7 separate regions of the Homo sapiens genome follow, and all the other regions are reported to be linked to region 6. Evidence: microRNA targets listed by miRTarBase, many of them from high-throughput screens and not tested one by one. Region 6 holds a microRNA gene; each other region holds the end of a gene's coding sequence.

Region 1 (4,058 bases), not on the chromosome of region 6:
GGCAGTAACATATCTGGTGTTTGCAGTACACTTTCAATTTATAAAGAATTTTCTGATTTGGTGTCTCATTTAATCAAATGCTCACATTACTGTCACTTGAAGAAGGTGTATAGAAAAGACATCTGCACACCTACCCAAAAGATCTTAGAAATATCACTGAAAATTTTCAGCAGGCATGCAGTTAGGCTGGCAGACCATCCATCCATCCATCCATCCATCCATCCATCCATCCATCCATCCTTTTTTTCCCTGACATAGGGAACTCATCCTCTAACATGAAGGCATACAGGACATTTGACCTCATATACCTTTTTCTTTTTTAAAAATTTGTTTGAGAAGTTCACATTTAATAAATTTCACTATTTTTGGTGGACAGTCTATGAGTTTCTATGAGGCCTGGAGCTCTTGTAACCACTGCCACAAGTAAGTTATAGGACAGTTCCATCACTCCACCCACGTTCAAATACATTTCTGTCTAGCTACCTCTTTCTAGTCAAACACTTGCTCCACTCTTAACTCTTGGCAATCACTACTCTCAACTCTGTTCCTATAGTTTTGCCTTTTCCAGAATGTCATTATCAAGAAAATCATATAGTGTGTGGTTGAGTCTGGCTTCTTTCACTGAACATAATGCATATGAGATTCACTTGCAATATTGCATGTAACAATAGTTTACTCTCATTTATTGCTGAGTACTCATTTATTGTATACATGTACCATAGTTGGTTTACATTTTTAATTCATTCCCCAGTTGAGGGATCTTTGGGTTGTTTCCGGGTTTTGATGATTATGAATAAGGCATCAATAAACATTCACAAACAAGTTTTTTTTTGTACAAACATAGGTTTTCATTATATTTGTATAAATATCTAGAAGTGGAATAACTAGATCATATTGTATGTTTAACTTTAAAAGACACTGTCAAACTGTTTTCCAAAGTGACTGTATTATTTTGCACTCTCACCAGCAATGTGTAAGAGTTCCAATTACTCCACATCCTCACCAGCACTTGGTATCCTCAGTTTTGTGTGTGTGTGTGTGTGTGTGTGTATGTGTGTGTAGTCATGTTAATAGGTATGTAGTAGTATCTCATTGTAGTTTTACTTGTATTTCCCTAATGACTAGTAATGTTGAACATCTCTTGATGTGCTTTTTCGGACATCTGTATATCTTATTTGGTGAAGTGAATGCTCACATTTTTTGTGATTAAAAAAGGGTTTTCTTGTCTGGGCGCGGTGGCTCATGCCTGTAATCCCAGCACTTTGGGAGGCCGAGGCGGGTGGATCACCTGAGGTCAGGAGTTTGAAACCAGCCTGACCAACATGGAGAAACCCTGTCTCTACTAAAAATACAAAATTAGCCGGGCATGGTGGCGCATGCCTGTAATCCCAGCTACCGGGAGGCTGAGGCAGGAGAAGTGCTTGAACCTGGGAGGTGGAAGTTGTGGTGAGCTGAGATCGTGCCATTGCACTCCAGCCTGGTCAACAAGAGTGAACTCTGTCTCAAAAATAAAATAAAATAAAATAAAATAAAATAAAATAAAATAAAATAAAATAAAATAAAATAAGGTTTTCTTACTTCTGCATTTTGAGGGTTCTTTGAATATGCGGGAAACAAGTCCTTGGTCAAACACATGATTTGCAAATATTTTCCCGTCTTTGGCTCACCTTTCATTTCCTTACCCATATCTTTTGTAGAGTAAATATTTTCAGTATTTGTTTATTTTTTAGAGACAGGGTCTTGCTCTATTGCCTGGGCTGGAGTGCAGTGGCATGATCACAGCTCACTGCAGCTTTGAACTTCTGTGTTCAAGTGATACTCCTGCCTCAGCCTCTTGAGTAACTAGGACTACAGGCATGTGCCATCCACACCCAGCTAATATTTTATTTAAAAAACTTTCTGGACAGATGTTACCTTGCTATGTAGCCCAAGCTGGTCTTGAAATCCCAGCCTCAAGTGATGTTCCTGCCTTGGCCTCCCAAAGTGCTGGGATTACAGGCATGAGTCACCATGCCTGGCCAAGGTTTGTTTGTTTTTTGCATATAGATGTCTAGTTCCATCACTTGTTGAAAAGATCATCCAGGTGTGCTCAATGTAATCACAAGGGTCCTTATGAAAAATGCAGGAGGGTCAGAGTCAGAGAAGGAGATGCAATGACAGAACCAGAGATTGGAGTGATGTCCTTGCTGAAAGGGGCCAAAAACCAGGAACCAAGGAATGTGGGCAGCCTCTAGATGCTGGAAAAGGCAAGTAATAGATTCTCCCCTAGAGCCTCCAGAATCAACATGGCTCTACTGATACCTTGATTTTACCATGTAAGACCCATTTTTGGGCTTCTGACTGCCAGAACGGTAAAATAATCAAGTTGTATTGTTTTATAATAACCACTATGTTTATGGTAATATTTTATAGTAGCAATAGGAAACCAATACAAAAAGCTGCATTGAATTGCCTTTGCATTTCTGTCAAAATCAAGTGACTATATTCATATGAAACTATTTCTAGATTATTTATTCTGTTCCATATTTCTATGTGTCCATACTTTTTGCCTACACCACACTGACATATCTTTTTTTTTTTTTTTTTGAGATGGAGTCTCGCTCTGTTGCCTAGGTTGGAGTGCAGTGGGGCGATCCTGGCTCACTGCGACCTCTGCCTCCCAGGTTCAAGTGATTCTCCTGCCTCAGCCTCCCCAGTAGCTGGGACTACTGGTGCGTGCCACTACGCCTGGCTAATTTTTGTATTTTTTGTAGAGGTGGGGTTTTGCCATGTTGACCAGGCTGGTCTCAAACTCCTAACCTCAAGTGATCCACCCAAAGTGCTGGGATTACAGGCATGAGCCACTGCACCTGGCATTTTTTTTTTTTTAGCCTGTCTTGAATTCTCTTATTTTCACTGCTTCATATCTTCAGGATATGAAAAGTTGGTCAGTGGTAGTGAGAAAGATCCCAAAACATAAGGATCAAAAAATGGCATGTTTCAGGGTAGGCATCTGTATTAGTTATCCATTTTTTTTTTCAGAAAGAAAGAAGTAAAATTGTATTTGTTTGTAGATGACATGATCTGCTGTGTAGAAAATCACAGAGTCAACTAAAATACTACTGAAGCTAATAAACACAGTGTATTTGCAGAATACAATATCAGTACCAAAAATTAGTTAAATTTCCATACATTAACAATAAACAATGTTAAAAGAAAATTAAGAAAACACTTCCATTTGCTAGAGAACTTACAGTAAGAAATATTTAGGAATAAACGTAAAAAGGTGAGAAGTTTGTACCTTGAAATCTACAAACATTGATCAAAATGATTAAAAACTTATATAAATAGAGATATGACCCATATTGATGGATTGGAAAGATTAATATTGTTAAATGATTATATAACCCAATGTGATTTAGATTCAACACAATACCCATAAAAATCCCTATCAGAAACAAAAAACAGGCTAGGAAAAGTGGCTCACGTCTTTTGGCCAGGATGGTCTCAAACTCCTGACCTCAAGTGATCTATCCGTCTTGACCTCCCACAGTGCTGGGATTACAGGTATAAGCCACCCTGCCCAGCCCAATCCTCTTAACGTAAACACTTTAATGTCAATTAATGCTTGAACTCAATGTCAAGTCAACTGAAACTCAAGTCAATGCTGAATTGACTCTAATGTCAATTAATGCTTGATGGTTTGCTATACTCATTGCATTTGGAACAATTATCTCAGGAATGAATTTTCTGATGTTTTGCAAGGAGTGACCTCTAACTGAAGACCTTGCCACGCTTATGACATTTGTAAGATTTCTGTCCGGTATGGATTCTCTGATGTCTAATGCGATGTGAATGTGAAGTAAAGGCTTTGCCACAATCATCACACTTGTGATGTTTCTCTCCCATATGAATTCTCCTTTGTTTTGCATAAGATGAAGCTTGACTGAAGGCCTCGTCAAAATCATCACATTTGTAAGGTTTCTCTCCAGTATGAATTCTCTTATGTGTTTCATGGTGTGATTTGCGACTGAAAACTGTGTCACATTCTTCACATTTGTAAGGTTTCTCTCCAGTAT
Region 2 (4,066 bases), not on the chromosome of region 6:
TTGGCCAGGTTGGTCTCGAACTCCTGACCTCAAGAGATCCACCCACCTTAGCCTCCCAAAGTGCTTGAGATTACAGGAATGAGCCATCACGCCTGATTTAAAGTATTTTAATGCGAGCTGTTAAGTATGTTAGCATCTGCCTGGGTTCTTATCGGTCAGTCATTACATAGACCCCAAATCATAAAGGTGTTCTAGTTTTATATCTATGGGGAAGGCTGGAAAATTACCACAAGGGGAGAGAGAGAAGGTGGTGTAAAAAGGCAGCCTAACTAACTATTTTTAAAAGCAGATCAGGAGATACAGGAGCTAGGTGAGATGCTGTGGACAGTGCATGAGGTTCAATTGTGAAAACCGATGTCCTCATTAATGACAGAGAGAACTCTGTCCCTCCATATACTTGGCTGGGCCATCATCAGTCCAGGGTCTCTTATACTTGGAGTTTTCCAGATGTTTGTTTCATGAAGCACACTTTACCAAAATTTAGGAAAAGAAGAGAAAGATCTCAACTTTAAGGTAATATACTTTTGGCTATAAATACAGGCAACTAAAAACAATGTATAAACTCTCATTCTGCTTAGGTCTGTAAATACATGCTAATAACTGTTCGTAACTTTAAAAGGCTGCCTTGAATTTTGTCTTACTGTTGCTGCAAAAGAGACTGTGAGGAGAGAAACACCTGACACTTTCAGAGACTGGGAGGGAGGGAAACAAAGTTGGGGGAGTGGGCAGCTGAGTCACAGGAACAGGGCAAGAGACTGAGCTGGGCAGCCTGGGAAGGTGCCACTCCCCTCTCAGTGTTCTTCATCTCCTCCCTTTCTTCTCCACCTGCTGGGAAGAACCACCTGAATGCCTACTCATTAGAGACTACTTTGCATCAAGCTGCAAATACCTCTGAGAAGTACTGCTGTCACTCAGTGATGGTTCTGGTTGAAATCTGATGTCAGTGTGGATGGCTGGTAACTCGAGTGCAGAGTATGTTAGGACTGAGTTATAGAGAAGACAATGGGAAGGTACCAAAACACTCTTAAAAAATTGTAGGTCAAGAGCTCTGTACACCTACTCATCCTTTTATTCTTGGGACCCATAATCAGGCTAGAACTAGAACAGTGTTTGGACACAGTACAGGGTAAACTTATGTTCAAGAATTTTGGATCCCATAATAGAGCATCGGGGAGAATGCTGATTTCCAAACAAACAACTAACATACTTTGGGATACAGTATTCACTTTTTTTTTTTTTTTTTTTTAGATGGAGTTTCACTCTTGTCACCCAGTCTGGAGTGCAATGGTGCAATCTTGGCTCACTGCAACGTCCGCCTCCTGGGTTCGAGCGATTCTCCTGTCTCGGCCTCCTAAGTAGCTGGGATTACAGGTGCATCCTACCACACCTGGCTAATTTTTGTATTTTTAGTAGAGACGAGGTTTCACCATGTTGTCCAGCCTGGTCTCAAACTCCTGACCGCAGGTTATCTGCCCACCTTGGCCTCCCAAAGTAAGTGCTGGGATTACAGGCGTGAGCCACCGTGCCCAGCTGGTATTCTCAAATTGAGACAGCTTCCTTTGAATTTTTCTACTTTATGAAAAGTTGCTATGTATAAATACTGTAATTCTAGCCTCTGCTTTACTGAAGCCTTTTCCCCCAGTAAACTGTGGAGTACTCACAGGTTCACAAAGAAGAACTGAACCTCAGGTAAGCTATAAAAAGAAACAAAGCAACTGTGGTGTTACTTCTGTTGGAAAATTTAAAAAAAGCAGTTATCCAACTTTCAATTCCATTTATAAAATGTAAAAATTCAAAAGTATACAACATAGTTCACTGATATCCCAACAATTCATTGCCTTTTAAGATCAAATAGCTGATTACCTGTTTCTAAACTTGAATTATTGTCTAGTGAGTAAAAACTGAAGGCAAACAGAGTGTTTTGTGGAACTGGGAAAAAAATGGATTCTGTGGTGATCTCTAGATGGTACACTGGATGATAAGGGTGTTTTTTTCAGATCACCTAAAGAAGTCAGAACACTGCCTTCCTCTTAACCTCTAAGGTAGTTCCATATTTCTCAAGGAGGGCAAAGTTTACAAATACCCCTTTAAATCCTTATTTCAATACTGTAGAATTTGTGTCTTATATTTAAAGGGTGACTTATTCATTATGAATGGGGCTGGGAGATTATAATGTATGCCTTAAATAACTCTGTAGAATGTGTGTAAGTAAGCTTGATTGAGGAGTTTTCAATCATTAGGATAATGTAAGAAATATAAAAATACTGTAAATAATAAGATAAAGCTTTCAAACGTATTTTCTAGTAATACTTAGAAATATCCACCTGAAATATTGGTCTGAATGCAAAGACATCAAACATAGGGTAACTTTACTTGGTAGATAGGAGAAATATTTTAAATCGACAAAATTTTCTAAATTTCAGTGTCTTTCTCCATTACTTTCATTTTGAGACTAGAGCTTGTGTAACTGACACCATAATTTTGCAAGATTGTTGTATTATATTTTAAGATTGAAAATGATTTCATCATAATCCATCCCCACCCCACACTCCCTGCTCCCTTCCCTGAGTCCCTTTCCTCCAAGCGTGTTGATATAAAATGAGTTGCGTCTTAATGTTTTGTTTTCTTAAAAACCAAATGCTATACCTTATGTTCAGACAATTGTGGGGCATGGAAATGGAAGTGCAACAAAGGACTAAGGCACCTTTTCTTCTTTCCTTTCCTTTCCTTGTTTGCCTTGGGGATGGAAACAAACACCACAAGAACAGCCAGGGTGGCTGGTCGGTCTTATGTCTCTTGACAATCTACGTACCAGCCACTTTCACTGGGTACTCTGTGTCACAGGCTGATAAGCCACAGACTTCAAACCCTGCTAGGAAAGAACTTTCTTCTTTTAGAAATACAGAAATAAAGGTACAACACAGTACCTTACATGGGGAAATTGGTGAATACCTGAAAATCTTAATGATTTAGGAATAATTTTGAAGTGTTCTGGATTATTTTACAACAGAAGTCACCTCTTTCTTGATTATGACACCCAAGAATATGTATTTATAGTTGTCTTCTTCCCAGCCAGACCCATAACCATAAATCTTCCTCCAATTAATAATCCCTGGTACTAGATGTCTGAGTGTTTATCAGCTTGACTTACCAGCAGATATTGCCTTAGGAATTGTATTTATTTTTTAAATGATGGATCAAATGGATCAATATAGTGTTTTCAAATGAGTAATCCTTGAAAATGACCCATTTGGGGACAACACTGTAAGCAAAAGCACTGGGAAATATACTTCAAGAGTTAGAAACATATCAAGGATTATAGATTCTTCTATAATAATGTGCAAAATCAGAATATCGTTTGTGTCATCTAGATACAAACCTTAGTATGGCCCCAATGCTGATCAGTGGTTGGAAAGGCTTTTTACATTAGGAAACACTGTTCTCTGAGACAGTAGTAGTAGTTTAAGTGGGGCTAGTGGTGGGGAAAATGCAACAGCTGTATTGGCAGGACTCTAACCCTCACTACTGTTATTTGGTGGGAGAGTAGAACAGGAGTCGGCTACACAATGATGTCATAGACACGGCCCACCCTGCCCAGCCACTCCCTCACAGCCTGGCGAACTCTGATGTCGGTCACGTGACAGGTCAGCTGACTGATGCACGGGAACACTGCGGGCTGGAGGGCCGTGAAGGTCTGGTCTGGGAGAATCTGAATCTGATTGAGAACTGTTAGCACCATGTTGGTCCATGCCTAAGAGAAAAGATTTAAGAAAATCAGTGGCTTTCCCCCCTGGTTTTATTTGAACACTTGAGAGTGGCCCTGCCAATGTGGAAATGGTTTTTTTCCAGGCTTTAGTTGCAATAAATTAGTTTTCACTCATTTAATATGCCTATAATAAATTGTAGGCGTATTAATTTATTATGCCTACATCATAACTTCACATACATAAAGATGGGCAGAGACTCGCCTTATTTTCAGCTTTCACAAACTACTAAACTCTTACTTATTCCTTAGATTTAAAAACAACAACAACAACAAACCTCCCTTGCCTTCTCACAGTGAGAT
Region 3 (4,066 bases), not on the chromosome of region 6:
GTCAGGTTGTAGTTTTTTATTTACTTGACTTCCATTCTATTCCTCCCTATGCTCTTTCCCTATTTTTCCAATTTTATCTTTCACTACTAAAAACCTAAAAGTGAAGTACTACTCTTCTTCTTCACTTTAATGTCAAATATAAAGTACTCCACTAATAACATATGGCTACTATTAAAAAAAAAAAAGATTTCAATGCAGTAACAGCCATAGCTTTAGGGTATTCTTAGGCAACACCCCAGACAAAACAAATCTGAACACTTATATTTCATACAATAACATAATGCTTTTTTCTTTTCACATTACTGCTTACCCCAAAAGCATGGCAATATACATTTTCAAAAACAATCTTCCCCTGTAATTACAATGAAAAACAAGAAGCAGAATACCCATCATCATTACAGAAACAATGATTGTATACTTTTAACATAATATTCAGGTATTTTTAATCACTATCTTAAACCAATTTTTAATTATATAAGTTAACTGTATATGCTTACTGGCTGAAAAAATACTGGCACAACCTACCTACTGCTTTTAATACACAACGTGGTAACTTGTGTCTTCTGCCTAATAGCACAATTATCAGAAAAAGAATGCAAAAGGTATATTAGAGAAATGAAGAAAGCATCAGAAAAATTTCCTCAGCCTTGGTTTATCATCTCTTTGTCTTTCCTTTGTATATATACTGAAGTTGACTGGTCCTCTTTCATTACTCTATTCCTACCCAAAGACCTTTTGGGTTTCAAAGTGACAGCAGCCATATCATGTTGTCTATTGTTGCTATTGAATTAGCCTCAATTACAGGCCCCCACTAAAAAGGATAAAGAAATACGTGAGGTTAAGAAAGATAACACAGAAACCAAAGGAGAAAAAAGAAAAAAAAAATATGAAGAATAGTTATGACCCACCAATAATTATCTGGCAATTCTGGAGCAGAGGTTCCTATCTAGCTGTTTCATTAAAGTAGGATGAAAAGCTGAAGTATAGCTCTCCAATTATCAGGCTTTAGAACGTTTTTTTAAAATAAAGCTCAATTTCATCTCTAACTAGTTTTTGTGCCTTTTACGAGATGGAGGTCTCAGTGTTACCTAGGCTGGATTTGAAATCCTGGCCTCAAGTGATCCTCCTGCCTCACTCTCCCAAGTAGCTGGCCCTACAAATGCATGCCTCTGTGCCCAGCTACTCTAGTTTTTAAAACATATTTCACTGTAATGAGAAAAGCTTATTTCCTATCTACTTCTACAACAGTAAGAATGGAAAAGCTTTCTTCACTCTGTCTGAAAGAGCCAGGAGGTCAAAAACAAAGTACCGTGATACCCATGATTCTTGCTACCTTCCCCCACCCCCACATAAATACTAACTTCACAGGAAACCAAGAGACTACAGAGTACAATTACCCCATAAAAGAAGACAATTTTAGCTTATCTCCCTGACTCTTCCCACCCCAACTTCCTCAAAAACACATAACAGAAAAGTCTGTGTTGAGTTTAGCAAGGACAATAATTAAAGAAGGTAAAGTGAAGGCTCACAGAATGCCTCCCAGTTTAAGTTAAAATTCCAACATCATAACATCAGGGTGTCAATTCATTCAACTTTTAACCCATTTGAGAAGGTTTAAGTTATTAACTTAAAAATATGGCAGTATTTCTTTTGTAACTATAATCTCTTTATAGCCTCTTAATTGCTCATGCTAATAGCTTTATTACATACTACTGCTTCTTATAAGAAGTAAATCCAGGGGCCATTCCATTTTATCTTAGACATAATATTTACTAGTTTTCCAAGCACGACAGAAATGAAAAAATATATATATTAGAACAAGAACAATTTATGTTAATCTCTACAATCTGTGTTCCTTCTGCGAGCAGTGCCTGATTCTACTAAAATTAACACATTTAAGTTCAGTCTTATGCTTAAGAAAAAAAAATCTAATGAGGGACTAATTTATAAAGTATACACAAATATAATTCTTTAATAAATCTTTCCAGTGTTCACTATATCTGCATTACATGTAATGTTTCCATCCACAGAAACTCAGGATAGTTCTTGTAAAATGAAACAGAACATTCTGTGTTCATCTCTGGCAAGCAATGAACAAATAGAACTTGCTCACAAAGGATCTAAAAGTGCTGCCTCAGGAACATAAACTACGTGCTATATGAATGAGTCTTGGTTAACTGGCTACTATCTGGGATCTCTTCCTCTGCTCATACCACTGAACCCATCTCTTATAAAGCCTATGAGAAAATGAAAGCTATTGCAGAAGTGAAATTCAACATGAGCCACCCAAATTCTTCTAAGGTAACCATTCTAAAGCAAAATCAGCAGAAGTCATCTCTTCTATAATAACAAACAAAAAACCCAAAAGGCAAATGCTACTGCTCAATCATCAGATGAACTCACAGAGGCAAAAATATGTGACAACAGCAATAATTCAAGTAAAGTATGTATGAAAATTTAAACACGCCATGTTCAAGTTAAGACAGAAGTGAAGGGGAGCTATGATCTTTATATTAGTCAAAAAAGCTAGGCATAATCACCAAATGTTAATTCACTTTACAGTCATCAATGAGACTATTGTATATATTTTTGCACCTTGCGCTTGTAAAAGCAGATAAAATATTTAATATGTAATTTACAATGTATTTTACCAGCTCAGCATACAGGATGTATACAGATTATATCAAAGTAGTAGACAGTTACGGGCCTGTGCAAACCCTGCAAAAATAGTACTTCAGATATCTGCTAATTAAAAACAAAAACAGTTTGCTGTTTAGAAGTGATACAATTTCAACTACCACAAAATACAAAGGGCTGCAAAAATGTAACCATTCCAACAACATATATAAGTTATTAAATAAAGATTTGATTTGAAAGAATATAAATGAAGACTTTAAGTAGGTCTTTTCTACATGCATATTATTCCTCATTAAAGAAAAAATATGTAAAAAGGCCATTGGTAATTGCTTTGTTAACATTTGTAGGCCGGGCACGGTGGCTCACGCCTGTAATCCCAGCACTTTGGGAGGCCGAGGCGGGCGGATCACAAGGTCAGGAGATCGAGACCATCCTGGCTAACCTGGTGAAACCCCGTCTCTACTAAAAATACAAAAAATTAGCCGGGCGTCGTGGTGGGCGCCTATAGTCCCAGCTACTCGGGAGGCTGAGGCAGGAGAATGGCGTGAACCTGGGAGGTGGAGCTTGCAGTGAGCCGAGATCAAGCCAGTGCACTCCAGCCTGGGTGACAGAGCGAGACTCCGTCTCAAAAAAAAACAAAAAAAAACAAAAAAAAAACAAAAAAAAACATTTGTAGAAAATGCCAATTCTCTGGTCACAAACTCCACTAAGTTTAGCACTTAAGGTCTCTGCAGTGTTATAAACGTAATTTAAAATACTGTTAATTCTATAATTCCATTGGTAAAATAATGTGACTTGGAATATGGCAGTCTTCATGTTGAGGGCAATGATCCACAGTTTTGTTCTGTCTTTTAATTTCTTAGGCGTGAACAGTTATCCAGAAGAACAGCACCCTCCACCACTGGTCTGGGCTTGAGGTTCATCATCAATAATCTGTACACCTCGCCTTGCAGTTCCCGGCTGACTAGAGCCATTGCCTTTTGCTCTCTCATCCACTTGTGCTGTTTCTATCATCCCTAAGACAGAGAGAAAGCAAACATTATTAGGACCACAATATTTGTGTTTTCTCTTTCTAAAATTTCAGTATAACACTATGATAGCTATTTCTGACTTTCGACCAACAAAGAAACTAAATATAATGAACATTGGGTCAGCTCACTAAAACAGCTTCACCTGCATGTTTTAAAAAACTAGTGTCAAAAACTAGTATCAAGTAGTAAGCTTATTTATCCAGTGGTATAATGGCCACAGTGATATCAATAAAGAAAAAAATTTTTTTGCTCTGAACAATTGCCTGCGTACAAGTATAATCCTTAAGATTTTCCAAACACACTTAGAAATATGTCAAAGAAGTTCAAATTATTCCAAGTAATATTTAGGGGGCAGGATTTATTCTTCAACTAGAAATGTAATACTTTTAAGTAAATGA
Region 4 (4,066 bases), not on the chromosome of region 6:
GTCTGCTTAACCTGACCTTGCAAATATTTACCAGCCCAACCTCCCCAAGGAGACTCGCAGAGAGAAACATGGATCCGATCAGCTTTTCCTTTTTATAAACTGGAAATAACTGTGAAGAGTCCATAGCTAGGGGGCAGATAGCTATTTCCAAAGCCAGTTCCAAGGCACCTCAAAGCAGTTCAGTCCTGAATAATTGTGCTTTGTTCTTATAAGCTAAATCCCATGGGTTAGCCAGCCCGTCTCTCTTTGCAGTGGCCCTTAATTAGGAGGAAGAGACAGATGGGGGGTGGGGGCAGAGGGAGGTTCTGAGAGAGCAGGAGAGGCTGGGGCAGTTGAGAAAGTCAGCCGACTAAAACCAGCAGAGCGTGGTGGTGGGAACATGCAACCAGAAGTGGGGCTCGAACCCCACGGTAGGAAGAGGAAGAACTTGTCAGCATAAGTTAGGAAACAGGGTAGGGAAATGGCTGCTGTGGAAACATCTCTCTGGTTTTCCACCTCTACTTACAGAAGCCCCATTTTGCTCCCAACTTCACCATCCTGGGGGAGGCAGCTCTATGAGTCCTCTGGAGGAGATTCTAAGAGGCTCCAGAAGAAAATGCATATGAGGGCTGAGCACCTGGGACAGAGATGGTTCCTGACCCAGCCCCATCTGCTGGGGCCCTGAGGCCCGTGAAGAGACATTGCTTTTCCTGGGCCCCAGTTGATCAGGGCAGAGGAAAAAAAGACTCCAGGAATCTTGGGCTTCTTGATGGAGAGTTAGAACTTCTTAGAATACACTAGGAAAGCCCGCAAATAATTCCCCTAAATGTTATGGATCCTGGAAAAAGATAAGTTCCCAACATCAGCACAGCTCCTCACTCATCCTGGGAGAGAAGGACACTTAAAGGGTGACCAAAAAAATGAAATCTGCAAGCTGCAGAAATGTATACAACCACTCTTGGTCTCAGCTGGCATGAGGTGCCCGCCACCCACCTCTCTGCCCCCAGCTGGCTGGCTCAAGGATGGGCAGCGTCCATCTGCTGCAGGCATCCTGGCGGCTTAGCCCACCCGCATTGGCAGTGTGTTGATTGGCAGTTAGGTACTGAGCTGATGAGTTTAGCATTTCCAGATGGGCTTGACTCGCTCACCTCACCCAGGTGTTACCAGGCTGGTTGCCCATCCCCCACTCTGCACCCACTCTGCCTGGCCTCTGCACCCTTGACCCTGTTGTATTGCCCCTCTTCCCTGCTGTTTCTCCCTTCCCAGGGCACAGATTCTAGAATCTCTTCATCTTCCCCAACTGTAGCCTTGGAAGCAGTGTCTTGCAGAGGTGGAATTAGATGCACCAAAAAGTTAATCTTGGTCCCTACAGTGCCAACCTGGCAGTCCCCAGTGCTTATGGCTTTGTGTATATCCCCAGTGCCCGGCACAGTGCCTGGCACATAATAGATGCTCAATAAATGGTTGCTGAATTGAAGCAAATTAAGCTGAATCTCCCAGATGATATTGCTGTCTCCCCAAATTGGCAATCTGATGGGCAGAGGCAGGGATTGGTCCCTGAGACTGTCACGGTCCTGTCTCCACCCCCTTTCCTAGACTTATTCCCTACCCTGGGCACCTGACTCCTTGAGTAGGGGTGGGGCAGAGCTCCTGGAAAGGCTGGGAAGTGCTGGGGCAGGGAATGGGGCATTTGCCAGCAGCTGTGCCCTTCACACTTGCTCCCTCCCTCCCTGCTTCCCTCCACTCCTCCTCAGTCCTGGCCAGAGGGGCTGGGCTCCTGGGAGGGGGCAGGGCTAGAGAAGCCCACCCCTCCAACTCGCCCCATCATAGACCAGGACACAGAGGCCCCTCCCACTGGGAAAATGATGGCTCTGTTGCTTCAAACTGGAGACTGAGGAGCCAGAGAAGAGGGCAGGACCCTCAGTTTCTGTCAGTTGGAACCTCAGTTTCCCCATTTTAAGTGAGTGACTTGGCTAGTTGATCTCTGAGGATCTTCCAAGGTCATGGTCTCAGAGTCAGTGTTTCTGCCTCTTGCTCCTTCTCTCAGGCCTAATCAATTTCCATTGAATGTGAGTGTAATGGCAGTGATGGTTGGCTCCGCACAATTGCCTTTTTTTTTTTTTTTTTTTTTTTTTGAGATGGAGTCTCTCTATGTCACCCAGGCTGAATTGCAGTGGCACTATCACTATCTCAGTTCACTGCAACCTCTGCTTCCCGGGCTCAAGCGATTCTCCTGCCTCAGCCTCCCAAATAGCTGGGATTACAGGCACACGCCACCACGCCCAGCTAATTCTTGTATTTTTAGTAGAGATGGGGTTTTGCCCATTTCTACTAAACAGATGGAGGTAATCCACCCGCCTTGGCCTCCCAAAGTGCTGGGATTACAGGCGTGAGCCACTGTGCCTGGCCTACAATTGTCACTTTTGTCCCCACGAAGGGAGTTGTTGGGAGAGGAGCGAGTAGTGTGGCTGCAGATGGGACAGGGCTGGCATTGGCAGCTCAGGTTCCAAGGCCTCCCCTTATGCCGGCCTCAGGCTTTCCCTTCCCTCTCTGTAGCCAAAAGCCAGGTGGAAACCCCACCAAGGGCAACTGGGAGAGTTCTCACTGAAGCCCCAAAGAAAGCTGCCCCACCCTGTGCATGGCCTCCTCATTTCCCAGCCTTGGCTGCCCCTGCCCAGGCGAGGGTGGTTACCCCATGGAGAAGGCAGAGCCTGCAGCAACCTGCATTCACCATGGAGCCCCACCCCTCAGCCCCTCAGCTGACTTTGAAACTGGCCTCTGTTGGTGGGTCCCCGCTGGGAAACATGGCCCCCTACCTGGAGCTGCTCTTCCAGTCTGGCCTCATCCACAGTCCTAAGGGATTAGGAGCCAACGGGAGCCCCAAGGAGGCCACTAGCAATGGAAACGAGGGCCCAACATGGCCTCCTGGGCCAGGGCACATGTCCAGCTTTGCCTGCAGCCCTGGCTTTCCGTCAGTGCCCTGGAATGCACAGTCATCCCTTTAACATGCCCCTCCAAGTTTCAGGAACTCATCGTCACCTCCAGCCTGATGGCTGCTCTGGGCTGGGAGCAGGGGAGGAGCACAGCCGTGCCAGGCCAAGGCCCTCCTGAGGGAGCGCTGTCAGCACAGGAAAGCCCTCCCTCCCCACCAGGTCCTCTCTGAAGCCACTGCCAGGCCAAGCACTGGGCAGGTGGACAGCGGCCCCCTCCTCTACCCCTGCCCACCCACTCCCTTCTCTCTGGGGACCCTCACATGTGCCTCCTGCCTCCCCCCAGGGACTGGCAGGTGGGAGCCCTTTCTCTCCTCTCCCCAGGGCCCACACGTCCCAGAGCATGGCAGGTTTCTCGGATGGAAGAGAGTGGGTCACTCTTGGTGCAGGGTGGGAGATACGAAGTCGGGGGTTCAGGAGGCCCCAGGTGGGCCCTGGGGTCCTAGGTCACGGGAAGCACACCAAGAGCGAGCAGGCAGGGTCACTGTACAGGGCGGAGAGGGGAGGAGACGGGACACGGGAGGCTGCAGGGCCGGCCACCCACTACTTGGCGCCATCATCCGGGTTGCCTTCACCGTCCGTCTTGCCCTCCTCCTCGGTCTTCAGGTCATCTGTGCTCAGCTTCTGCTCTTTTTTTCTCCTCACACACTTGACCACCATCAGCACCAAGATGACCACAGCCAGGAAGCCCCCGACGGAGGCACCCACAATCACGGCCACCGTGGAGTCCCGCTCAGGGGGCTCTGGAAAGGAAGCAGAGCCACTGAGCACCAGGGCTGGGAAAGGGGCCTCCCCCATCACCCCACTACCCGTGGCATGCGTGGAACCATCCTGACTTTACTCTCCTCCACAGACAGGACTTTAGCAAAGCCGAAAAGCAATCCAGTGACTGACCCTGAAGCGCCGCCACCTCCAAATCCCAGGACACCCAAAGCCCCCAGAGGAGCTAGTGTGATGAAGTATTTAAGAGCATGAACTTTAAGATCAAACAGACCCAAATTTGAGTCCTAATTGTACAACTTACGAATTGCGTGACCTTAAGTAACTTATCCTCTCTAACCTCAGTTTTCTAACATGTAAAATGGGCTTAATAATAG
Region 5 (4,066 bases), not on the chromosome of region 6:
TGTCCCTGTAGTTCTGTCTCTCTCTCTCAGTGGCCTACATATGTCTGTATGTCTGTCTTCCCCTTTCTTGGACTCTCTCTCTCTCTCTCTCTCTCTCTCTCAGTTTCTCTTGCTGTGTCCTTTTTAATCTGTCTTTCTGTTTCCAGTTTGTTCATGCTGCCTTGTCTAAGATGCATCTCTTTACATGTCTTCGTTTCTCTGCATCTCTGTCTCTCTCTCTCTCCATTCTCTGTCTCTCCTGCCTCTTTGTCTCTGTCACTGTGTCCACCTCATTTCTTGGCTCTTCCAGGACCTCTTGTCTCTGCATCTCACTCTCTTTCCACCTTGCTCTTCCATTCTCTCTGCGGGTTTCTCTCCATCTCACGCTGTCTCTCATCCTCTGTCCCTCTCTGTCTCCCCAAGACTCTCCCCCTCCACCCAGTCATAATTCTGTTCTCTCTTCCCCCCAAGCAGGACCTGCTAAACCCCGACCCTGCCCCCTACTGCCAGCTGGTGCCAACTTCCTGATGGGTCCTGGGCCAGGCCAGCCAGGGAGAAGACAAGGCCCCAGCCCTCCTCTGGGAGCCTCACACCTGAGACCAGCAGGACAAGGCCATTGGGGGCTGTGGGGCCGATGAGGTGGACTCAGCCAAAGACTCAGCAGCACATGGGGCAGGTGTCCTGGCAGGGGGACAGGAGACTGTAACAGGCCCAGGTCCTTGTGCAGCCCGTGAATGCACGCCCGCCTTCGGTCTGTTCCTTCAAGCAAGCTGGCCTGGGCCATGTGCCTGTGAAAGGCAGGCTCTGGCCCCTTTCCATGCCAAAGTCCCCCAAGATCTGGATATCTGGGGACAAGATGGTGGCCTCAGGCCTGCCTCCCAGGCAGTTGGCTGGGCTCCCAACTGTCTGTCCTCAATGCCCTACCCCAACTCCACTAGTGACCCTCAGAGTCTTCTCCCCTTAGGACAAGGCAGACACCCCACCATGCGGGCCTCAGGTGGCAGAGAGGCCCAGCCTCACAGGCCTGTGGCCCCACACACCAGTCCCAGCAAGGTGACCACGGCTGCTGGACCCCTTCCCTGTTCAGGCAGGCCCAGCCCCTCTCAGAACCTGCTGCCAGCTGCTGGTCTTGGCCCCCACCCTGAATCTTACTGAGTCCCTCTGGGCAGCAGCTCCCTTCTCCACCCCACCCCAGCACCCGTCCCAAATGTGGCCTCAGCTTGTCCTCCCCTTCCCCAAACTATGCATTCATTCAGCAATAAATGAGCCTTTGCTGTATGCCAGACCCAGTTCTAGGCTCTTGCAGCCCTGGTAGAAAGCAAAACAAAAACTCCCGCTTTCCCAGAGGGTCACTTGGCAGGGGAAAGAATCAGGAAATAAAATAAATAATGAACATGCGTTGTCTGTCAGATGGGGATAAGTGTATTGGGGAAATGGAGGGGGGTCGAGAGTATTGGGGGACTGAGATTTTTAATTAGGGCACAGAGGTCCTCGCTGAGAAGGTGACAAATGAGCAAAGACTTGTAGGAGGGGAAGAAAGGAGCCATGTGGGGCTCTGGAGGAAGAGCATTCCAGACAGAGGGAATAGCCAGTGCAAAGGCCCTGGGGCAGAAGCATGCCTGGCATATTCAAGGAGCAGCAAGGGGGCTGGGCATGGTGGCTCACACCTATAATCCCAGCACTTTGGGAAGCCAAGGCAAGCAGATCATTTGAGGTCAGGGGTTCAAGACCAGCCTGGCCAACATGGTGAAACCCCTTCTCTATTAAAAATACAAAAATTAGCCGGGCATGGTGGTGGGCACCTGTAATCCCAGCAACTGGGGAGGCTGAGGCAGGAAAATCACTTGAACCCGGGAGGCGGAGTTTGCAGTGGGCCAAGATCGTGCCCCTGCACTCCAGCCTGGGTGACAGAGCAAGACTCCACCTCAAAAAAAAAAAAAAAAAAGGAGCAGCAAGGAGGCCAGTGTGGTGGAGAGGGTGGGGAAGGAGGAAAAGGTGGGTGGAAGTTGACGTCAGGAGATGGACGGAGGGGCACATGGCGCAGGGCCAGGTAAGGCACTGCCGAGACTGTGGCTTTGAGGGGCAGGGTGCTGTGAAAGGCGAATAACGGCCCCCCAGTGACGTCTACATCCTAATCCCCTGTGAATGTTACGTTATATGACAAAAGAATGCAGCCATGATTAAGTTCAGGATCGTGCTTTGGGGAGATTATCCTGGATTGCCCTGGCAGGCTCTTTATGTAATCACACAGATCCTTATAATCGAGAAGGACACAGGAAGCGTGAGTCAGAGGGGCTGTGACAACAAAGGAAGCAAAGCCCTTTGAAGACGGGAGAAGGAGCTGAAAGTCAAGCAGCACTTCAGAGTCAGAATGATTGAGTGTGAGAGAGTCCATGGGCCATCGTGAGTGTTGAAGACGGAAGGGGGCCTTGAGCTAAGGAATGCAAGAAACTTCTAGAAGCTGGAGGAGGGCCAAGCTCAGTGGCTCACGCCTGCAGTCCCAGCACTTTGGGAGGCCAAGGTGGGAGGATCGCTTGAGGCCAGGAGTTGGAGACCAGCCTGGGCAACATAGCAAGACCCCGTCTCTACAAAAAAAAAAAAAAAAAAAAACAGAACCGAGGGTGGTGGCTCATGCCTGGAATCCCAGCACTTTGGGAGGCCGAGACAGGGGGATCACCTGAGGTCAGGAGTTCAAGAATCAGCCTGGCCAAGATGGGGAAACCCCGTCTCTACCAAACATAGAAAAATTAGCCAGGCGTGGTGGCGGGTGCCTGTAATGCCAGCTACTGGAGAGGCAGAGGCAGGAGAATCGCTTGAACCCAGGAGGCGGAGGTTGCAGTGAGCCAAGGTTGCACCATTGCACTCCAGCCTGGGTGACAGAGCGAGACTCTGTCTTAAAAAAAAAAAAAAAATCAGAATTGAGGAAAGGCAAGAAAATGGATTTTCTTCCTACAACCTCCAGAAAGCAACACAGTCCCGCTGAAACCTTGGCTTTAGTGCAGTGAGACCCATTTTGGATTCTTGACCTCCAGAACTATAAGATAACAAACTTGTGTTGTTTTAAGCCACTAAATTTGTGGCAATTTTTTACAGGAAATGGGAAACTAATCTAGAGGATGAGGAAGAAATCACAGAAGGAGAAGTTGCGTCTCATGCTGACTCAGTATGCAAATACTCTCTGGGAGACTTCTCCATCCTCAGACCGCTCCAGACACCAAATGCCTGGGCCTTTGACCGCCTTGCTAAGAGGGTCAACCAAGCCAGCCAGGTAGCCAGGGCTCAGGGCTAGGAGTGTGAGGGGATTCCATCTTTTCTCTCTCTTTTTTTTTTTTTCTTTTTTGAGACTTTTCTTTTTTGAGTCTTGCTCTGTCGCCGAGGCTGGAGTGCAGTGGTGCGATCTCAGCTCACTACAACCTACGCCTCCCAGGCTCAAGCAATTCTCCTGCCTCAGCCTACCAAGTAGCTGAACTACAGGTGCACACCACCTCACCCGGCTACTTTTTTTTTTTTTTTTGTATTTTCAGTAGAGACAAGTTTCACCATGCTGGCCAGGCTGGTCTCAAACTCCTGGCTCTGCAGACAGGAGGACTGAAATCCATGGTGGCAGACGCCTATAATCCCAGAACTTTGGGAGACCAAGGCAGACGGATTACTTGAGGTAGGAGTTCAAGGCCAGCCTGGCCAACATGCTGAAATACAGTCTCTACTAAAAATACAAAAATTAGCCGGGAGTGGTGGTAGGTTGAGACAGGAGAATCGCTTGAATCCGGGAGGCAGAGGTTGCATTCAGCCGAGGTCATGCCACTGCACTCCAGCCTGGGCAACAGAGCAACACTCTAGAACAAAACATTGACAGAATTTGTTTCTGGTTTGGATACAGGGGATTGGAGAGAAGAGTGTGCCAATAATTGGTTTGTTCATCAATTCAATGAAGATTTATTGAGCATCTGTTGTGGACAGCCCTATTCTAGGTTCTGGGGAGACAGCCATGAATGAGACAGTGATGGCTGCTTTTGGAGAGCTGACCTTCTAGTGGGAGACAGGCCACAGAAAAACAAAGCACATGGAACATAATGTCAGGGATGAC
Region 6 (4,064 bases):
CCAGGCACGCCGGTGTACACGTCTGTGTGCCCGTGCCCCTGGTCCTGTGGCTGCACGCCAGGGCCGGAAGTGCTGGTGGTGGTTTCCATCATGAGGAGCTGCTGGTTTTCCATAGCAGCTCCACCATCTAAGGTTCCCACCACCAACACGAGGTTGCGGTTTCTCCACATCCTCAACAACCTGTTACTATGTCTTTTTTGTTCTGGCCATGCTGCTGAACGGGTGGCTTGCTGTGGGCTCTTCTCAGTTCCCTGTTGACCGACGCTGAGCGTCTTTTCATGTGCTTGGCCATTTGTGTATCTTCTCTGGGGAAATGTCTATTCAAATCCTTTCTCCATAGTTTAGTTGGGCTTTTGAGATAGGATCTCAGGCTGAAGTGCAGTGGCATGACCTTCACTCACTGTAGCCTCTGCCTCCCAGGTTCAAGCGATTCTCCCACCTCAGCCTCCCGAGTAGCTGGGACTACAGGTGTGCACCACCAGGCCTGGCTAGTCTTTTGTATTTTTGGCCAGGTTCGTCTCAAACTCCTGACCTCAAAGTGCTGGGATGACAAGTGTGAGCCGCCACACCCAGCAGTTGGGTTGTTTTTTATTAGAGTTTTTTCTGTTTTTCTGCAGATACATTGGCTAGAAATGACTGAATTGGAAGAATTCTCTGTATTCTCTGGTTGCTAGAACCTTATCAATTAAAATTTGCAGAAAATTTCTCCAATTCTATGGACTGTCTCTTAAATTTTCTTGGTGTCTTTGGAAGCACAAAGTATTTATTTTGGTAATATCTGGTTTACTTTGTTTCCTTCGCCAAATCCAGGTTCATGAAGATTTGCCCGTTTTCTTCTAAAAGTTCTATAGTTTTAGCTCTGAAGTTTCGCTCTTTGATCCACTTTGAGGTAAATTTTGGCACATGGTATGAGGCAGGAGTTGCGTTTCATTCTCCTGCCTGGGGCGGTGCCTGCACCGTGTTGAAAAAGGTTGTCCGTTCCCACTGAACGGTCACAGCTCCCTTGTCTAAGATCAACGACCCCTGAACATGAGGGTTCCAACTGGACTCTTAGTTCTACTCCACTGGCCTGTGTCTGCCCACCATTACTACCGCTGTGCCATACTGAGGTCAGGCTGGGGCTTTTCTGGGCTGCTGGGTGAGCTGGAGAATGCGGTTGTGTGACCCGCAGGAAGGGCAGAGCTGAGCGTATGACCTGTGTCGTTCCCCTCCAGAAATACCCGCAGCCCAAAGGGCAGAAGAAGAAGAAGATCGTCAAGTACGGCATGGGTGGCCTCATCATCCTCTTCCTCATCGCCATCATCTGGTTCCCACTGCTCTTCATGTCGCTGGTGCGCTCCGTGGTTGGGGTTGTCAACCAGCCCATCGATGTCACCGTCACCCTGAAGCTGGGCGGCTATGAGGTGAGCATGTGTGGGTCCGCCTGTCCATTCCCATCCCCTGGGGGTTCTGGCCAAGGTGGTGCACCACCCCCAGCCGCTCCTCCACGCTCATCTTCGTGGCCCCGTGTCCCCGTGCCTGCCCCAGCCGCTGTTCACCATGAGCGCCCAGCAGCCGTCCATCATCCCCTTCACGGCCCAGGCCTATGAGGAGCTGTCCCGGCAGTTTGACCCCCAGCCGGTAAGTGGCCTCTGCCCTGTGAAAGCTGGTGTGGGGAGGCGGCTGCAGTCACTGAGGGTGTCACTTGTACCCAGCTGGCCATGCAGTTCATCAGCCAGTACAGCCCTGAGGACATCGTCACGGCGCAGATTGAGGGCAGCTCCGGGGCGCTGTGGCGCATCAGTCCCCCCAGCCGTGCCCAGATGAAGCGGGAGCTCTACAACGGCACGGCCGACATCACCCTGCGCTTCACCTGGAACTTCCAGAGGTTCGTCCTGGACTTGGGGCAGTGCCTGGGTGGGTGGACCCACTACAGTGGGTCACGCTGTGTTCCCACCCCCAGGGACCTGGCGAAGGGAGGCACTGTGGAGTATGCCAACGAGAAGCACATGCTGGCCCTGGCCCCCAACAGCACTGCACGGCGGCAGCTGGCCAGCCTGCTCGAGGGCACCTCGGACCAGTCTGTGTGAGTGAAGGGCCCGGGTGGTGGGCAGGAGGGCTGTGCCAGGTTGGCTGGGCCAGGCCTGACCTGCCAGCACCTCCCTGCAGGGTCATCCCTAATCTCTTCCCCAAGTACATCCGTGCCCCCAACGGGCCCGAAGCCAACCCTGTGAAGCAGCTGCAGCCCAGTGAGTATGGGCGTGGGGGTTGGGGGAGGCTAGAGAGGGGTGACCTGCGGCCTCAACGATCTTCTCCCTCCATCCCAGATGAGGAGGCCGACTACCTCGGCGTGCGTATCCAGCTGCGGAGGGAGCAGGGTGCGGGGGCCACCGGCTTCCTCGAATGGTGGGTCATCGAGCTGCAGGAGTGCCGGACCGACTGCAACCTGCTGCCCATGGTCATTTTCAGTGACAAGGTCAGCCCACCGAGCCTCGGCTTCCTGGCTGGCTACGGGTGAGTGAGTGGCTGGGGGGGCACCCCGCAGCTCGGGGGGCTCCGGGCGGCCCCAGGACTCACCAGCTTCCCCCGCAGCATCATGGGGCTGTACGTGTCCATCGTGCTGGTCATCGGCAAGTTCGTGCGCGGATTCTTCAGCGAGATCTCGCACTCCATTATGTTCGAGGAGCTGCCGTGCGTGGACCGCATCCTCAAGCTCTGCCAGGACATCTTCCTGGTGCGGGAGACTCGGGAGCTGGAGCTGGAGGAGGAGTTGTACGCCAAGCTCATCTTCCTCTACCGCTCACCGGAGACCATGATCAAGTGGACTCGTGAGAAGGAGTAGGAGCTGCTGCTGGCGCCCGAGAGGGAAGGAGCCGGCCTGCTGGGCAGCGTGGCCACAAGGGGCGGCACTCCTCAGGCCGGGGGAGCCACTGCCCCGTCCAAGGCCGCCAGCTGTGATGCATCCTCCCGGCCTGCCTGAGCCCTGATGCTGCTGTCAGAGAAGGACACTGCGTCCCCACGGCCTGCGTGGCGCTGCCGTCCCCCACGTGTACTGTAGAGTTTTTTTTTTAATTAAAAAATGTTTTATTTATACAAATGGACAATCAGAGGCCAGTCCCCCGTCCTTGCCTTCCGGCTCCAGTGTGGTGTACCAGGTGGCCACTGCCTGCTGTCCCGGCAAGCACGTCCTCACGCTCAGCTCTGGCCCGCCTCGTCGTCACTGTCCTCAATCAGACAGTCCCGGATCTCCTGCAAGCCCCAGGCCCTAGAGAGAAAGCTGCAGTGGGCACCAGCCCCGAGGCCCCTTACCCACGCGCCACGGCAGTGTGGGCCCCAGTACCTCTGTGTGCGGAGCTGGGCCTCAGCCAGGATGTACGGCGGCAGGGGGTCCAGTGAGGGCTGCAACAGAGGCCGGTGTCGAGGGGCCAAGAAACCTGCCAGCACCCCCTCAAGCCACCCACGAGGTGACGGCCTTCCCGCGTCCCCAAGCCCGGCCCAGGACAGGTGGGCACGTACTCACCAAGTCCTTCATGTTCACGCGGCAGCTGTAGCACAGCTGCTCCTCAATGCAGGCTTGGGGGTCCTCCCTGCGGGAGCAGAGCTGGCTGTGTGCCCACCTTGGCACCTCAATGCCGTGCAGTGTGGGGTAAGGACAGGTCCCCCTCCCGCCCCATGCAGCTGGCCATGGGTGGCAGGGACAGGGACTCACCTCCTGCAGGCCCCCTGGCCACAGCGCTGGGCCCAGCCCACCCCTGGAGAACAGCAGGGCCCCGGGGGTGTCCGGGTCTCAGTCAGGGGGATGGGTGACTGCATCTGGGAGAGACGCGAGGAGGTCTGAGCCCCAAAAGCCGTGGCACTGTCTGCAAGCAGAGAGGGGGTGACGGAGCCTGGGGCTGCTGAGCCCCCACACCCACTCCCTGGCTCCCTCCCCGCATCACCCCAAGAGCATGAAACACAGACCAGCGGCGTCGACGTCCAGGGCACACATGCAGAGGAGGCAGCGGGGGCCGGAGTCGCCAGCAGCAGGGCCATCCCGGGGGCCCTTCACCAGCTTCTCACTTGTCCTGTGGCCGGATTGTGGGAGG
Region 7 (4,062 bases), not on the chromosome of region 6:
GGGTGAGACAGGAGAATCGTTTGAACCTGGGAGGCGGAGGTTACAGTGAGCCGAGATCACGCCACTGCACTCCAGCCTGGGCAACAAAGAGTGAAACTCTGTCTCAAAAAACAAACAAACAAACAAAAACTGAGATATCACTTTTAATTTATTTGCTTGGCAAAAATAACATTTGATAGCTCATTGTTGGTGAGGGTATGAAGAAGCAAGTTATCTTACACATTGCTGGTGAGAGTGAAAGTTGCAACAACTTCTGTGGAAGAAGATTTCACAATATCATCAAAATTACAAAGGCACATACTCTTTGATCTAGCAATTCTACTTTCTACTAGTACTAATTACGCTACATATATACACCTGTGGAAATCACATGGCAAAAGAAATTCACTTCAGCAAAATTAGGAATAGTAAAATAGGACACAATCTTAATGTTGCTCGATAGAGAATCAGTCCATCCATAAGCTGGAACATTTTGCAGCCATAAAAAGGAACTATGAAGCTTTTTATGTACGAATAAAGGATGATTTCCAAGATATATTTAGTAAAAAGAGCAAAGTGCGGAAGTGCATTTATAGTATACTTTGGAAATATGTATGTAAAACAGTACACATTATAGTTATATATAATCATATGTTAGGTAATACATTATTATATATTAGTGTATTTTATATTAAACAATTTATTTCTAGAATGTTATTTGTATATAAGTTAAATAAATATATATTTTGCCCCTTTTTTCACACAACTGGTAGCATACTATATATATACATATATATGTATATATGGATTTGTTTTTTTGTCTTTTTTTTTTTTTTTTTTTTTTTTAGAGACAGGGTCTGGCTATGTTGCCCAGGATGGAGTGCAATGGCTATTCACAGGCCTGCTATCATAGCACACTACAGCTTCAAATTCCTGGCCCTCCTGGCCTCAAGTGATCCTCCTGCTTCAACCTTCTGAGTAGCTGGGACTACAGGCATGCCACTGTGCCTGGCCTTATTTTTAATGTATATATTTTTCTGTAGATAGTTGACTATCTGTGGAAGAATACTCAGGAAAATGGCAACAGTGATTGCCTCTTGAGAATTGGGTGACTAGGGAGAGAAGTAGGTGGGAGATTTTTTTTGTATACTCATACCTTTTGAATATTGTACCATGTGCCTTTTGAATATTGTACCATGTGCCTTTTGAATATTGTACCATGTGACAAAGTCTATCAGATAAAGACCACCAAGGAACACACCTGCGGTCAAGTTAAGTTTATGAGCTTGCTGCTGTAAGGAAGACCCCACACCAGAGAAACCAAGGATATAACAGTAAGAGGGAACAGAAGGAAACTTTTTTATTTTTTGAGATGGAGTCTCACTCTGTCGCCAGGGCTGGAGTGCAGTGGTGCGATCTTGGCTCACTGCAACCTCTGCCTCCCGGGTTCAAGTGATTCTCCTGTCTCAGCCTCCCAAGTAGCTGGGATTACAGGCACCCACCACTATGCCCAGCTAATTTTTTTTTGTATTTTTAGTAGAGACAGGGTTTCACCATGTTGGCCAGGCTAGTCTCAAACTCCTGACCTTGTGATTCGCCCATCTCGGCCTTCCAAAGTGCTGGGATTACAGGCGTGAGCCACTGTGCCCGGCCCAGAAAGGAACTTTTACAAGATTTGGGCTTCTGTTGAATGATTGAGGAGAGTCTAGGGAAGCAAGGATTGGCTCTTGATTGGGTATCTCAGCAGTCTGTTCAGAGGCACGAGGAACAAAGCGAAGTCATTGGTAAGAAAGTGGTAATCACTGAAAAGAAGAAGGTTGTTAGGCATTTTGCAGGTGTGGTGTGGCCTTGGGAAGAAGTTTTCTGATGGCCTTGCCACTGGCCCTGTCTGTATCTAGTTGGTACATTACAGTCTGATTAAAATCAGCACTGATCTTTCCTTTCTCAGTCCTGAACTGACTTTTACTTTCTGACACTTGAATGTCTTATCTATTCAAAAACTAAGGCATATTTTAAAGTAAAAAGAATGAAAATAAACCTTCTCCACACACTTCTTGAGCCTAGATTACCAGTTCCCTAGCAAATAAGAAATTTATTTGGCAGACAAGAAAGTCAAGTGTGTGTGTGTGTGTGTGTGTTTCTGAGCAATGCTGCTCCTTCCGATGATCAAATATGAAGAAGTAACTATCTTCAGAAAAAAGATGAAGGCAAGTACCCCAGTACTGCAGTAGCTGATGCCAGGGAGACTGGAGTATAGGGGTGGCTCTGGGCATCATGTCCCCATCCCCTGCCAGGGCTGAGTACTTGGCTCTTGAATCTCTTTTTTCAATTGCTGTTACTCTTTCCCATGATGCTGACTCTAAGAGTGCACAAGGCTAAAACATGCATTGCTCTCAATAGGAATCTGTAGCAGAGACAGCGATGTTTAGGGCCAACAAAGATCTTGGGCAAGTCACTTCACTTTCCACCATAAAGAAAATGAAAGGACTGGAGCAAATGATGCCTGAAATCTTGGCTAAGGCCTCAGCAATCAACATTGGCAGCAATCAACCCCTGCCCTCCTCCCCAATACAACCTTGTTATGTTCACAGTAAAACAATCACAACAGGAAGAATAGTGTAGCATCAGATAAATTGTCTTCCAATCCTTTTCACTAGAGGCAACCCTTAGTTAACAGTTATGTGTTTTTCCAGCTATTTTTGTTCAGAGACAGTATCTCCTTCCCATTTTCCATTTAGGAAAAAAAAAAGTGTAGCTCGCTGCCTGCACTCATTTAGTTTTACATAAACACCCTCTTTGAGGCTGAAGCAAATCTGACTGATTTTCAATGTGAAAATAAAATATAAAAACTGTTCTTGGTGCTAGGCGCAGTGGCTCATGCCTATAATCCCAGGACTTTGTGAGGCCCAGATAGGCGGATCACCTGAGGTCGGGAGGTCAAGACTAGCCTGACCAACATGGATAAACCCAGTCTCTACTAAAAATGCAAAATTAGGTGGGTGTGGTGGCACATGCCTGTAATCCCAGCTACTAGGGAGGCTGAGGCACGAGAATCGCTTGAACCTGGGAGGTGGAGGTTACAGTGAGCCAATATCATGCCATTGCACTCCAGCCTGGGCAACAAGAGTGAAACTCCGTCTCAAAACAAAACAAAACAAAACAAAAACAACAAAACTGTTCTTGGAGTTATTTCTTTTTTTTGAGATGGAGTCTCGCTATGTCACCCAGGCTGGAGTGCAGTGGTGTGATCTCAGCTCACTGCAACCTCCGCCTCATGGGTTCAAGCAATTCTCCTGCCTCAGCCTCCCAAGTAGCTTGGATTACAGGCATGTGCCACCACATCCAGCTAATTGTTGTATTTTTAGTAGAGACAGGGTTTCACCATGTTGGCCAGGCTGGTCTTGAATTCCTGATCTCAGGTGATCCACCCAGGTCGGCCTCCCAATCTTGGAGTTATTTCTAAACAGAACTTGTCTCTAATCCTAATGGAACAGATGTGTATGATGATCGGTATTTAATAATTTTTTTTCGTGTGGTAAATTTCAAAGCACGGAACAACACAAAGCGGAACATCACATTCGGCACAAAAATAGCGCGTTTCTTTCCGGATCTTCTTGCCATCCTTGTCGTATTGGGAGCAGCAAATTTTGCAGCGACCAGTTGGATTCTGTTTCCCGGACGTTGCTGGTATGCTCTTGGGGAAATGTCTTCCAGACAGACGAAGAGGTGTGACATCATCGGAGCAAGGACGACCTCGAAGATGTTGCTGCCCTGGCTTGTGATGCTTTTCCAGCATTCTTTCAATCAATGCCAGTCTGAAGTTTATATGGCTCATCGTGTGCTCAGGATTATCCTTCTTGAACAGGATGTAGGAGTTCAGCACTGTAATGTGTAGAAGATGGTGAAAGAATTTCTTATACCAAACCTTGTGTCTTTTGCGCTCAGATGGATAAGAAGTAAGCATTTGATCAGCCGAGTCCACTGCTCCCATATTCTCGTTATAATCCACAATGACACGTGGCCTTTTAGTTTTCTTTCCATTTCTATTGTTTACTTCAATCACAGTATCATTGTGGAATGTTG

The links. The annotated mature microRNA hsa-miR-4722-3p reads ACCUGCCAGCACCUCCCUGCAG and lies in region 6 at 2,127-2,148, shown strand. An mRNA with a match to its seed (bases 2 to 7 or 8) in the 3' UTR can be bound and repressed. Matches are read on the target gene's strand: a 7mer-m8 pairs with bases 2 to 8, a 7mer-A1 pairs with bases 2 to 7 and ends in A, and an 8mer does both.
Region 1: the mRNA of ZNF860 is a reported target of hsa-miR-4722-3p. The part of its 3' UTR that is shown has no 7-base or 8-base seed match.
Region 2: the mRNA of ARFGEF3 is a reported target of hsa-miR-4722-3p. The part of its 3' UTR that is shown has no 7-base or 8-base seed match.
Region 3: miRTarBase lists RAB21 as a target of hsa-miR-4722-3p. Seed matches in the 3' UTR shown: 7mer-A1 at 1,125-1,131.
Region 4: the mRNA of SCN2B is a reported target of hsa-miR-4722-3p. Seed matches in the 3' UTR shown: 7mer-A1 at 3,240-3,246 and 7mer-A1 at 2,211-2,217.
Region 5: the mRNA of CEACAM19 is a reported target of hsa-miR-4722-3p. Seed matches in the 3' UTR shown: 7mer-m8 at 662-668 and 7mer-m8 at 1,334-1,340.
Region 7: the mRNA of PGBD4 is a reported target of hsa-miR-4722-3p. Seed matches in the 3' UTR shown: 7mer-A1 at 3,271-3,277 and 7mer-m8 at 2,266-2,272.

Annotation. Positions count from the first base shown.
Region 1 is chr3:31,990,674-31,994,731 of GRCh38, reverse strand. ZNF860 (zinc finger protein 860) reads right to left here. Exons shown (of 2, transcript NM_001137674.3): 2 at 3,009-4,058. The coding sequence ends at 3,754. It also overlaps a transcript of OSBPL10 not described here. Among named protein-coding and RNA genes, the nearest start is that of ZNF860, 11 kb to the right of the region's middle.
Region 2 is chr6:138,335,980-138,340,045 of GRCh38, reverse strand. It overlaps ARFGEF3 (ARFGEF family member 3), which reads right to left. Exons shown (of 34, transcript NM_020340.5): 34 at 1-3,751. The coding sequence ends at 3,560. Among named protein-coding and RNA genes, the nearest start is that of SMIM28, 40 kb to the left of the region's middle.
Region 3 is chr12:71,785,118-71,789,183 of GRCh38, reverse strand. It overlaps RAB21 (RAB21, member RAS oncogene family), which reads right to left. Exons shown (of 7, transcript NM_014999.4): 7 at 1-3,653. The coding sequence ends at 3,511. Among named protein-coding and RNA genes, the nearest start is that of RAB21, 32 kb to the right of the region's middle.
Region 4 is chr11:118,163,375-118,167,440 of GRCh38, forward strand. It overlaps SCN2B (sodium voltage-gated channel beta subunit 2), which reads right to left. Exons shown (of 4, transcript NM_004588.5): 4 at 1-3,712. The coding sequence ends at 3,513. Among named protein-coding and RNA genes, the nearest start is that of SCN2B, 11 kb to the right of the region's middle.
Region 5 is chr19:44,682,984-44,687,049 of GRCh38, forward strand. CEACAM19 (CEA cell adhesion molecule 19) reads left to right here. Exons shown (of 8, transcript NM_001127893.3): 8 at 454-1,372. The coding sequence ends at 507. It overlaps LOC107985306 (a long non-coding RNA gene), which reads left to right and starts at 2,055. Exons shown (of 3, transcript XR_007067268.1): 1 at 2,055-3,247; 2 at 3,860-4,066. RefSeq lists an enhancer at 2,114-2,408.
Region 6 is chr16:88,714,362-88,718,425 of GRCh38, reverse strand. MIR4722 (microRNA 4722) reads left to right here and starts at 2,089; the gene lies at 2,089-2,148. CTU2 (cytosolic thiouridylase subunit 2) reads right to left here. Exons shown (of 15, transcript NM_001012759.3): 11 at 3,940-4,043; 12 at 3,689-3,839; 13 at 3,500-3,566; 14 at 3,320-3,378; 15 at 3,030-3,244. The coding sequence ends at 3,175. PIEZO1 (piezo type mechanosensitive ion channel component 1 (Er blood group)) reads left to right here. Exons shown (of 51, transcript NM_001142864.4): 45 at 1,215-1,403; 46 at 1,528-1,620; 47 at 1,695-1,867; 48 at 1,943-2,065; 49 at 2,149-2,228; 50 at 2,307-2,493; 51 at 2,572-3,088. The coding sequence ends at 2,821.
Region 7 is chr15:34,103,721-34,107,782 of GRCh38, reverse strand. PGBD4 (piggyBac transposable element derived 4) reads right to left here. Exons shown (of 1, transcript NM_152595.5): 1 at 1-4,062. The coding sequence ends at 3,494. Among named protein-coding and RNA genes, the nearest start is that of PGBD4, 3.7 kb to the right of the region's middle.